Regions from separate parts of the Homo sapiens genome. Here region 1 is linked to region 2. The links come from fine-mapping of genetic effects on gene expression. A gene starts in region 2. The other region holds a variant in brackets. All regions are shown on one strand. Distances are from middle to middle. Region 1 has its middle 40 kb from the start of LINC01181. Region 2 holds the start of LINC01181 (long intergenic non-protein coding RNA 1181).

Evidence for each region. PIP is the estimated chance that this variant, and not a neighbour inherited with it, causes the effect.
Region 1: its variant is fine-mapped to the expression of LINC01181 in monocytes after Pam3CSK4 (Quach 2016, PIP 0.95). The same link has a PIP of 0.9 or more in monocytes and monocytes after LPS.

Annotation. Positions count from the first base shown.
Region 1 is chr8:103,078,332-103,083,713 of GRCh38, reverse strand. No RefSeq gene overlaps it. Among named protein-coding and RNA genes, the nearest start is that of LINC01181, 40 kb to the left of the region's middle. RefSeq lists an enhancer at 5,008-5,177. The variant C/T (reference allele first, on the strand shown) is at 2,773.
Region 2 is chr8:103,119,015-103,124,396 of GRCh38, reverse strand. LINC01181 (long intergenic non-protein coding RNA 1181) reads right to left here and starts at 3,365. Exons shown (of 6, transcript NR_145429.1): 1 at 3,184-3,365. RefSeq lists an enhancer at 1,827-2,328.

The sequences.
Region 1 (5,382 bases), 41 kb after region 2:
TTTTAGTTCAAAGTGGTCAGATTAATATGAAATCTTCCAGGCATAAGCCAGGTGCCTTGAGTTAAACTACACTTTGGTTTGTCCAAGCACACCTTCCAGTATTCTTTGTTCTGACATCTCCTCTTATAGATGGGTCTGTGTTAATTATAAACTTGAGTTTATTGAAGCATTTGAGGAAGGTAATGGGCGGTCTATGTGTGCTTCACAACCTTATTCAATTAAGCTCTCTATTCTTAATTTACTACTAAATCCTCCTTTGGCCTGTAGTTTCATAAGGCTTATCATGGGTTGGGTGTACTTTAATCAGACAATGTAAGTCATTTCTTTCCATCTCATAAGCTACATGTTGACCTAATGTTTCCATGTAAGTACTTGTGCTTACTTTATGACCTTTTTAGGGCTTGCTGAAGATGGTAGTATACAGGCTGAATTGACAAGAAATAGTGAGGTTTATCATTGCTTATTAATTATGAACCAGGCTCCTCTAGGGGGGATGGAAACACCATACCACCAAGTCCTTTGAGTTTTAAGCTGTTGCTGATAGTACTCTAGTGAATAACTTTAAGTTTATGGCTAAACATAGTGGGGTATTTAATCCCAGTTTAGGTCTTAGCTATTGTGTATTCAGATCATATTAAAGTCATTTTTGTAGTTTATTTGTATTATCCTAAACACAAACGTGCTTTTCAGATTTTATTAATTTGGGTTTATGACTGTGGTGGCTGACACAAAATTTACTGACCCTAAGGAAAATTAGCATAGTTTAGTCAAACTTTTTGTTTATTGCTTTTTATTATTGCTATTTCCTGTAGGAGTGTGGCTGAGCAAGACGTTAGTTGCTACCAATTAGTGTGCTTGACGCCTGCTCCTTTTGCTCTTTTGCTGATTACACATGCAATGCAGATACTTGCACATGTAATCTTACTAAGAATTAATAGAAGGGCCAGAACCAAACCTGTGTGTTTATGCAGTTACATGAACTCATCTAGGCATTTTCAGTGCCTTACTTTAGTGGACTGAGCTACATCGACTTATATCTAGAAAATTCTGTCCTGGGGAAAAAAACTGCTAAATTATGTGCTATGTTAGCATTGGGGGCTCTTTTGGTAATCTTAGTAAGAAAAAAACTTTTAGCCTAGAAAGCCTAATTTTTAATTGATGTTTGGATTTTTGAAAAATGCTTTAATTAGGAGTTGGGTTAATGCTAGATGAACTTATAACTAAATTTAATAGCATGTGAGTATATATAGGAGCCTTAGTTAGCAGTCAATAGATACAAGGTTTCTTATTTGGGCAGGGTTGGCAAGAATAAAAGACTTACTCAGATACTATAAGAGCTTAAGGAGGGTAGAGGGGTTTACAAAGTTAATCATACATGGCAGGAAGAACTGCTTGTATGTGTCTGTGTCTATATCTTGTTTTTATTACGTCCATTGAGATGAATCAATTAGCACCAAATGATTTTATGTGAGTAAAGAATATTCCATTTAAGCGCAGCTACGATCTAGCTGACTGTGTCAAGGCATTGACAGCCATGTTGGATCACAGCACCCTCCAAAATTAAAAAATACCAAATGCATGACCCCACAGTTCCATGTCATCTTGTGCTAGTTAGTCATTAGTCACTGAGATGTCTTATTTAGGGGGAACAAATGAGTGGTTTCAAATCTATGGCCCTGAAGTAAGAACCAGATGCTAGGTATAGTTTCAAGTCTAGAAGCCCCTAGGTTTTATGGGCCCAAAGCAAGAAGGACATTTCCTGAGTAGGTTGCTGGTTTCTCAAAGCTTGGTGGTAAAGAAATCCTATTGGAAGTGATAAGCATGTTGTTAAGGATTGATGTGACTTGATGTGACTTAATGTGCCATGCACAATCAATGATATTATGTCCTATGTAAAAGAAAGGAATTAATGTACTGGACAATATCCAAGTGTTGAATCTATTTTATGTAATCTTGCAATATAACATGCTGTGCACTCTAATTAGTGCAATTTATGTGCGCATATGCATGGGGAATGGACCTTAATGCACAATAAAACATTTATGTAAAATCAAGCATACATAGCACTAGTACATTATTAATGGGGCAAGGCACGTAATGCAGGTGGAGGGCCTCTTTGGAGGTTAAAAAGAATAAAGAATGTGGAGGAAAATGAAAAGATAGATAGTTCCTCAAATGAGAGGGACATAGGGGTCAGAGAAAAGGGCTGTCTTTTTTTTTTTTTTTGAGACAGGGTCTGGTTCTGTCACCCAGGCTGGAGTGCAGTGATGTGATCCTGGCTCACTGCAGCCTCAACCTCCTGGGCTCAAACCATCCTCCTGTCTCAGCCTCTTGAGTAGCTGAGACTACAGGTGTGCACCACTACGCCTGGCTAATTTTTTTTTTTAATAGAGATGGGGTCTCACTATGTTACTCAGACTGGTCTTGAACTCCTGGGCTCAAGCAATCCTCCCACCTCAGCCTCCCAAAGTGCTAAGATTATAGATGTGAGCCACTGTGCCTGTGAGAGGTGTTTTCTTAATGAAAGAAACAGAACTGTTTATATAATGCAAATAAAAAGGAGAGAATTAAACAGAAAATAGCAGAAAATCATAGGAGCAAACAAAGCGCCAAAGGCCTGTGTGCAGAGGGACGGGTGCTGGGCTGAAGATCAGAGCAGAGTGTGGCATGCAGAAGGGGCAGGGCATGCTGGCTGGAAGAGTACACACCCTCCCAGCACGAGGAGGACCCAGCATGGGGAAGTCTGGGGCATTTAGCACGTGGCACAGTGCC[C/T]AGCACCCAGCACCCAGTGGGCTCCCATGACTACCAAGACCAACTGCTTCAAATTAAATCCCAGTCTTACCATACAGTAGCTGTGTGACCTTAGCAAGGTAAACAACCTCTCCTATCTGGGAAGAGGCCAGATCTTAAGCAAAGCACAAAAGAGCTGGAGTTTTGGAAAGGGACCCTGTGAAAAGGGGAGAAGATTTGGAACAATTCTTGTGAAGAATGGGAGACAGATGACCAGAGACCAGTAAAAAGAATGCACACAAAATGTGGTAAACAGGCATCAGAATGGTATAAATGTAAAAATAATGCCATGGTTAGGAATTGAGATTTCAGTCCCTTTTTTTTTAAATTTGGGTTTAATTTCTGTATATATCAAACAACAAATAACCCAAAGGCCAGGATCGGGGCCTGTTGTAACTGAGAAAGCAAGAGCTGCCTGAGATGTTCATTTTATGCATCAAGTTGACAGGGCCTCAAGGTGCCCAGATGGTCAGTCAAACATTATTCTGGGTGTTTTTGTGAGGGTGTGTTAGTCCGTTTTCAGGCTGCTGATAAAGACATACCCAAGACTAAGCAATTTACAAAAGAAAGAGATTTAATGAACTCACAGTTCCATGTGGCTGGAGAGGCCTCACAATCATGGTGGAGGGTGAAAGGTACATCTCATATGGCAGCAGACAAGAAGAATGAGAGCCAAGTGAAAGGGGTTTCCCCTTATAAAGCCATCAGACCTTGTGAGACTTATTCACTACCATGAGAACAGTATGGTGGAAACCACCTCCATGATTCAATTATCTCCCACTGAGTCCCTCCCACAGCACGAAGGAATTATGGAAGCTACAATTCAAGATGAGATTTGGGTGGGGTCACAGCCCAGCCATATCAGTGTTTTACATGAAATTAACATTTAAATTAGTAGTTGTCTTGAGTAAAGCAGACATAATGTGGGTGGGCCTCACCCAATCAGTTGAAGGGCTGAATAGAATAAAAGACTGACCCTGGTAAGACTGAACTCTCCTGCCTGATGCCTTTGCACTGGGACATCAGCTCTTCTGGGTTCTACAGCAGCTTCCAGCTTTCAGACTCAAACCAGGACATCTACTCAGCAGATTTTGGAGTTGCCAGCCTCTGTAATCATGTGAGCCAGTTTCTTATAATAAACCTCTTCATATACTAGTTCTTGTCTTTGGAGAACTCAGAACTCTGAACTCTTGTCTTTAGAGAACTAACACACTGCCTGACTGCGTGATTTTATCATTTATTGCCCTCAACCTCAGAAAGAATTTGAAATAGCTGCTTAGCTACATAAAGTTTCAGGCCAGTGGGCTTTCTTTTAAACTACAATCTTTGCAGGAAAAAATGGCAGGTTCATTGGAAAGGAGTCCTGAAATGAAGCAAGGAAAAGGCAAGAAAGAATAGAAACAGAAGAATTCCCAAGGTTGAAGAGGAAACAAAATGTTAAAAGAAAGATTTTGACCAACCAAAATTAAGAAGCAAAGAACAGGGGGGAAACTAGGCAACAAAAAAGACAAAAGAAAAATAAGTAAATAAAATAAAAAATCAATGGATAAACAATGGCAGCCCGGGCAACATAGTCTCTACAAAAATTTTTTAAAATATCTGAGTGTGCCTGTGGTCCCACCTACTCAGGAGGCTGAGGCAGGAGGACCACTTGGGCCTGGGAGGTTGAGGCTGTAGTGAGCCCTGATGGTACCACTGCACTATAGCCTGGGCAACAGAGCGAGATCCGCTCTCAGAGAAAAAAAAAAAAAATGAGGCACCTAATAAATGTTACTATCTCCTTGCAGCTCTAATGTGGGATTTAATGAGTGTTCAAGGGCTGCTGAGCAGGGACAACATTGTGTACCACCATGTAGCTGAAGAGTTAACTTTCCTAGTTAGGAGGAAATGAAGCTGTGTGCCTGGTTGTAAAGATAAGAGCCATCCAAAACATTTATTTTAGAAAAGAAAGTGACACGAGGGCAAGCAGCCAATTAAAATCTGGAAAGCTGCGACTATGGAAAATTCTACATTTCCTTTCAACGTAAGCACCTAATGACACAGGACTTCATTCCAGAACTAACACTAACACTTCTCAAGCAATCAATTCATATATTCCCATGTTCACGTCTCTCCAAAGTTGCTGTATTTCCCCTGGAAAAACGGAAGAAATCCAATATAGCTACCCAAACAAATACCGTAAATGACTTAAGAGGCAGGGACAGAGAGAAGTTAGAGCGGCAATAATTTATATGATAGACTTAAACCCTTCTTCTACTGAGTGGGGCTCATAGCCTCTTGTCTCTCAGTAAAAGCCTATAATAGTTTGAAGCAAAAAGACAACCCTCCCCTCTAAGAAAAGTGGAAGTGAGAAATATGACATATTGGAAAAATGAAAAGGAAACCAGAATGCTCCCCACCTCGTGCAAAAAATCCCTGTTGTCACATGTTGGCTATTATCAAAAGACTACCGTGTGACTAATTTGGAGCTGTGGAGTCAGCCAGTTATGTGTCAAATATTATTTAAAATGCCCATTTGATAAACAGATGATGACTATGTTTGTGAAGAAATCAAGACAGTTGCAAAAGAATTTAAGAATAAATTTTACAAAT
Region 2 (5,382 bases):
CGGTGAAACCCCGTCTCTACTAAAAAATACAAAAATCAGCTGGGCGCGGTGGCACACGCCTGTAGTCCCAGCTACTCTGGAGGCTGAGGCAACAGAATCGCTTGAACCCGAGAGGCGGAGTCTGCAGTGAGCCAAGATTGTGCCACTGCACTCCAGCCTGGGCAACAGAGTGAGACTCCGTCTCAAAAAAAAAAAAAAAATGAAAAAAAGAAAGAAAGAAAACAAAACAACAACAATAACCAATCAGCCCTATCAGGCAGGTATTATTCCTGTGATTATGTTACAGATGAGCAAAATGACTTCAGAGAGGTTGAGTAACTTGCTCAACTTTACCCAGCAATAAATTGTGGAGGCAAGCCTGTGATTATGTTACAGATGAGCAAAATGAGTTCAGAGAGGTTGAGTAACTTGCTCAACTTTACCCAGCAATAAATTGTGGGGGCAAGCCCAAGCATAGGACTTGCTCAACTTTATAGGTCATGTTCTTAATAGATGTTTTTCTGATTTGATTGTTTAAAGAGGTGACTGAATTTCATGATTCAAGATTTAGGAAAATTATTACACAATGCTTAGTGAAAATTTCTTCTCCTATCACTGCCCCCAGGCCCCCAGCTTCCCTCCTCATAGGCAACCAGCGTCATTAGATGAGGTGTAATATTCTAGAGATATTTTCTGAGTTTCATTTTGCTACACCATTCTGAAGCTCACATTTTTCACCTAGGAAAATATCTTGCAGATCACTCCTTATCAGTACACAAAGAGCTTCCTTGTTCTGTTTTCCAGCTGCAGGATTTCATCGTGTGCGGAGGTGCCATGATCTTGCTCACCAGTCCCCAGTCAATAGACATTAGCCCCATTTCCATTCTTCACTGTAGCTGATGCTCTTTATTCTGAGAAAACTCCACTCCCTCCTGAGAGATCGTGAGAGTCTCCCGTGACAATTAGCCTCCTCTAAGCCACAAGACATGGCCACGTTCTCAAGTTACTTTAACAAATGGAGTGCATTGTGAGACACACAAGAACACAGACCAAAAAAAAGAAACTGGGAAGCAGCCTGACAAAGGCAGGTGGAGAGTAGCCCCACCCTGGGCACCAGGCACCTCTGCCCATTTCCTGCCACCACCCATGGCTGTGAGGGGCTCCATGAGCCACCCAGACACTGTCACCATGTCTCCCATCCTGCCAGTTGCTGGGCTTTGGCAACTAATCAGCCTGCATCTAAAAGCAAGGTCATTTTAAGAGGGTCTCTGTGACTCTGGCCTCGCTTGCTGAGTCCAAATGTCCATACAGGAGAGGGGCAGGATCTCTATCACATGGCCCCCTTGCTACCAGTGGAGGGTGTCCAGGTTCTTGGGGTCTTGAACAAAGAACTGGACAAAGTTACAAACAAAGGAAGGAAAGAATGAAGCAACAAAAGCAGAGATTTATTGAAAATGAGGTGGGAGTGGCCCCGAGCATAGGGGCTCAAGAGCCCTGTTACAGAATTTTCTGGGGTTTAAATACCCTCTAGAGGTTTCCATTGGTTACTTGGTGTACGCCCTGTGTAAATGAAGAGGATCAAGTAAAGTTACAAAGACATTTACTGGGTTTACGCCTTGTGTCAATGGTGAGGATATTTCCTGTAATAGCTGAAGTATTTCCATTTGATTTAGTTCTAGGAAGTCAGCATGAATCAGTCTTATGTTCCCTGCCTCCAGACCGTATTCTCCTGTCTCACCCCGGGCAGACGTGGGGAGCTGCTGGCTGGTCGGCTGGTCAGCTGGTCAGCTCCCCTGGGAACAGGGCCCATCCCAATTCCCACCAGGTGTAGCCAGGGTGGTGAAGTCAAGTGGGACAACGTGAGGGCCTGTGCTTAAGGCCCCGTTTCCTCGGAAGGGGTTTGGGGCACTCAGGCATCAGGTACTGTACCTCCTGCCCAGGGATCCCAGAGCTGCCTAGAGGAATTTGAGCAGGCTGGAATTCCTGCTGAGCAAGCAAGGCCAGAGTCACAGAGACCCTCTTAAAGTGACCTTGCTTTTAGATGTAAGCCGATTCAGTCTAGGGGGAAAAAATGACCACATGGAACCACTTATAAGGCTCTCTAGCTTAAAAAAAAAAATTATACACCTTAGCTCACCAAAGTCTCCAGGAAGTAGACATTATCAGCAGCATTCCCATTTGACGAATGAGAAGACAAGCTTACAGAGGTTACCTGAATTGCGAGGATCACACAGCTAGTCAGCAAGGGAGCTGAGACTCAAACCTGCGTCTTCAGATTCTGGTTTGCGCCTCCTTCTGACTGCACAGCCCTGCAGGCTCCAGAACATCTCCCTTGCCGGCTCTGCTTCCTTTCCTCAGCTGTTGAATGGTGATGCTCCCAAGGCCGTCCGTTAGGGCCTGCATTTCTCTCCCTCTCCACACTCTCTCTGGTTGTTCTCATTTACCTCCTTGCCTTGGCCTAATATCAAAAAGTCAGTGGCCCCTAGAACTCTCTCCAGCCCAGATCTTTCTCCTGAGTTCCATACCTATATATCTAATGCCTTACTGGACACCTCCACATGGCTGTCCAAGCCACCTCAAGTGCAGTGTTTCTGAAATGAAACTCATCTTTCTCTGTAAACTGCTTCTCCTTCTGTGTTCTCTGAGTAGCAGTGACTTCACTTCTGAAGCACAGACTATGTGTTAGTTATTTCACACATGCAAGAGCGGGGTATCATCGTCCCATTTTACAAAAGATAAAAGTAAGGCTTGGAGACGTTAACTTGCTTGCACAAGGCCATAGTACCAAGTCGTTGACAGAGCCAGAGTTCAAATCAAACTCTATTCTGCATTTCTCTCACTGGCACAGGCTGCCTGGAAACCATGGGGCCTCAGCTCTTCACTCTGTTGCACGAACCAGAAGTCATGGTTCATTCTTGACTCCTCCAACCCTCCCCACCCTCTTCCCACCCTCACCCACCCCAGCTTCTCACCCCCACAGCTGCCTCAGAGCTGAGTCAATCAGTTCTACCACCTAAATGCTTCGCAAGCTGTGCCTTCTCTCCATTCCTATTGTCACTTCCTTGGTTTAGCCCCTAAATTATGTCTCCCTCATTACCTGAAATAACTTCCTAACTAGTTTCTTTGTCTCTAGTAACAACCCCGCTTCAAGTCCTCTCTCCCTGTGAATGAGCTTTCTAAAATATACCCAATCATTGCATTCACCTGGTTAAGACCTCCAAAAGCTTCCACTACCTCCAGGATAAATCCCAAATTCCTGTTTCTGCTGATGCCTGTATATGCAGGTGATCCCTTGCTGGGTCTCTGAAATGGGTTCATCTCTTCAAGGTTTTTACTGAGACGATATAGTCCTCTTGTTGCACATTGCACTGATCCAGGCCATCTGTACTGTATTCCAATGAGCTACAGAAAAATGCTTGCGTGAGAGCCTTTCATATGCAAAAATAAAGACTGAATTATGCCATAACTATTGATAAGTCTACAGTAATCCATCATGCAATTGTTTACCCAATAGATTGTGTTTATATTGTCTTTGGTACCATGTAATTTGTAAATTTTCATGACAGTGTAACCAGTTAGGCCTAGGGTGGCAGGACTTAAGTGTTGCTGAATCATTTATTACTCCACACCTCATTGAAAAGTGCTTCATAAACTTTCTGAAACTGTTCAACAGACAGAGGGTAATTTGTGCTCTGCCAACAAAGGATTCTGTTGTTGAGTGCCTATCAGCATATTAAAGGTTCAGAGAAAACCAGCAATGCAGAAACTAGAGCAATTTTGTTCTCAGAAGATAGTTTTCTTCTGCACATCCATTCGTTAACATATTCTAAAAGAGTCTGCCCTCAACAGGAGTTTGGGGAAGCACTGGGATAGAGTGCAGAGGCCCTGAGGCTTCTGGAGTTTATCTGACTCTGACATCAGGATGCAAGCACAGACCTGCCACTCTCTCAGGAACATCTTTCGTTAACTCCCGTTTGTCTTTCAAGATTCAGTTCAGATGGCATTTCCTCCTAGTGCTCTTCCTCCCTCTCTGTCTGTCACACACTCACAGGTGCATATGCACCCACACATTTGTGACATGTATAATAATTGCATGGGATTTCCTAACACCCTCTTTCATAATACCTGTCTGTATTTTCTATTGGTTGATAGAAAATTCAGCCCAGACGGATGAGAGCCAACAGGAAATTTATAGGCATTGGAGGCACGCTGCTGCAGCAGCTCCAGCCTCACCCATCCCCACCCTGTCCCAGGTCCAAGTTCAGCAGGAAAGCAGGATTGTCTCATAGGTTTTGTGCCCTGCCTGAGGAAATTCCCCAGATTGTGAATCCCCAAAGGTAGACCAGGGTCTCTTATCCCATATCCAGCCCTTAGCACCTTCCTTGGCATGCCTTGTTTTCAACAAATAACAAATGGGGACACAAAATGTTCAAAGCAAGACTTCTACCTCGAAGGAGTTTATAGTCTAGTTCAAGAGTCACTATGTATAAACAGAATAGAAATACAATAGACCATACAAGGTAACATAAATGCCAAATGAGTGACTTGGGTATTAAGTATCAAAGGAATTCAAAGAAGGGACAGTTTTGGGAGTTGATAAATAAGACATAGATCCTGAACTAGAGAAACTGTTTCTAGTAGGAAAGAAAGGTATGTTACACAGAAAATGCCAATACAGACTGATAAGTATGGGGGCAGAGTGTTCATTACCATGTTCTGTTGGTTCTAGAAAGCTTTTCTTTTTCACTAAATGATTCAAATAATAGCAGCCTTATTTTTCTTGGTCTTATTTACTTTATTTTACTAATAAATTTTTCAAGATGAGAATAGGGGATTTCCTGTTTTGGTGTGTGACTCAGGACACAGGGCCCCACATCGCAGCCTGACACATAGCAGCCTGATTTCATTTCACTGCAGCATCACAGTTTTCCATAACTTCTCTTTTTTTTTTTTTTGACAGAATCCTGCACTGTCACCCGGGCTGGAGTGCAATGGCATGATCTCGGCTCACTACAATCTCCGCCTCCTGGGTTCAAGCGATTCTCCTGCCTCAGCCTCCCGAGTAGCTGGAATTACAGGTGCCCGCCACCATGCCTAGCTAATTTTTTGTATTTTTAGTAAAGATGGGGTTTCACTATGTTGGCCAGGCTGGTCTCGAACTCCTGACCTCATTACCCGCCCACCTCGGCCTCCCAAAGTGCTGGGATTACAGGCGTGAGCCACTGCACCCAGCCCATAACTTCTCTTTTTAGCTGAGCATTTAGCTGCTGTTAAATTCAATTAAGTCCTGCCCCTAGAAGCATGCTGTGGATGACTGCAATAACACTTCTGCCAGAAGACCATGCAGCTGGGCATGTTGACCTCACGGATTAAGGGCTGCAGACATGGTGGGAAATATTTCCT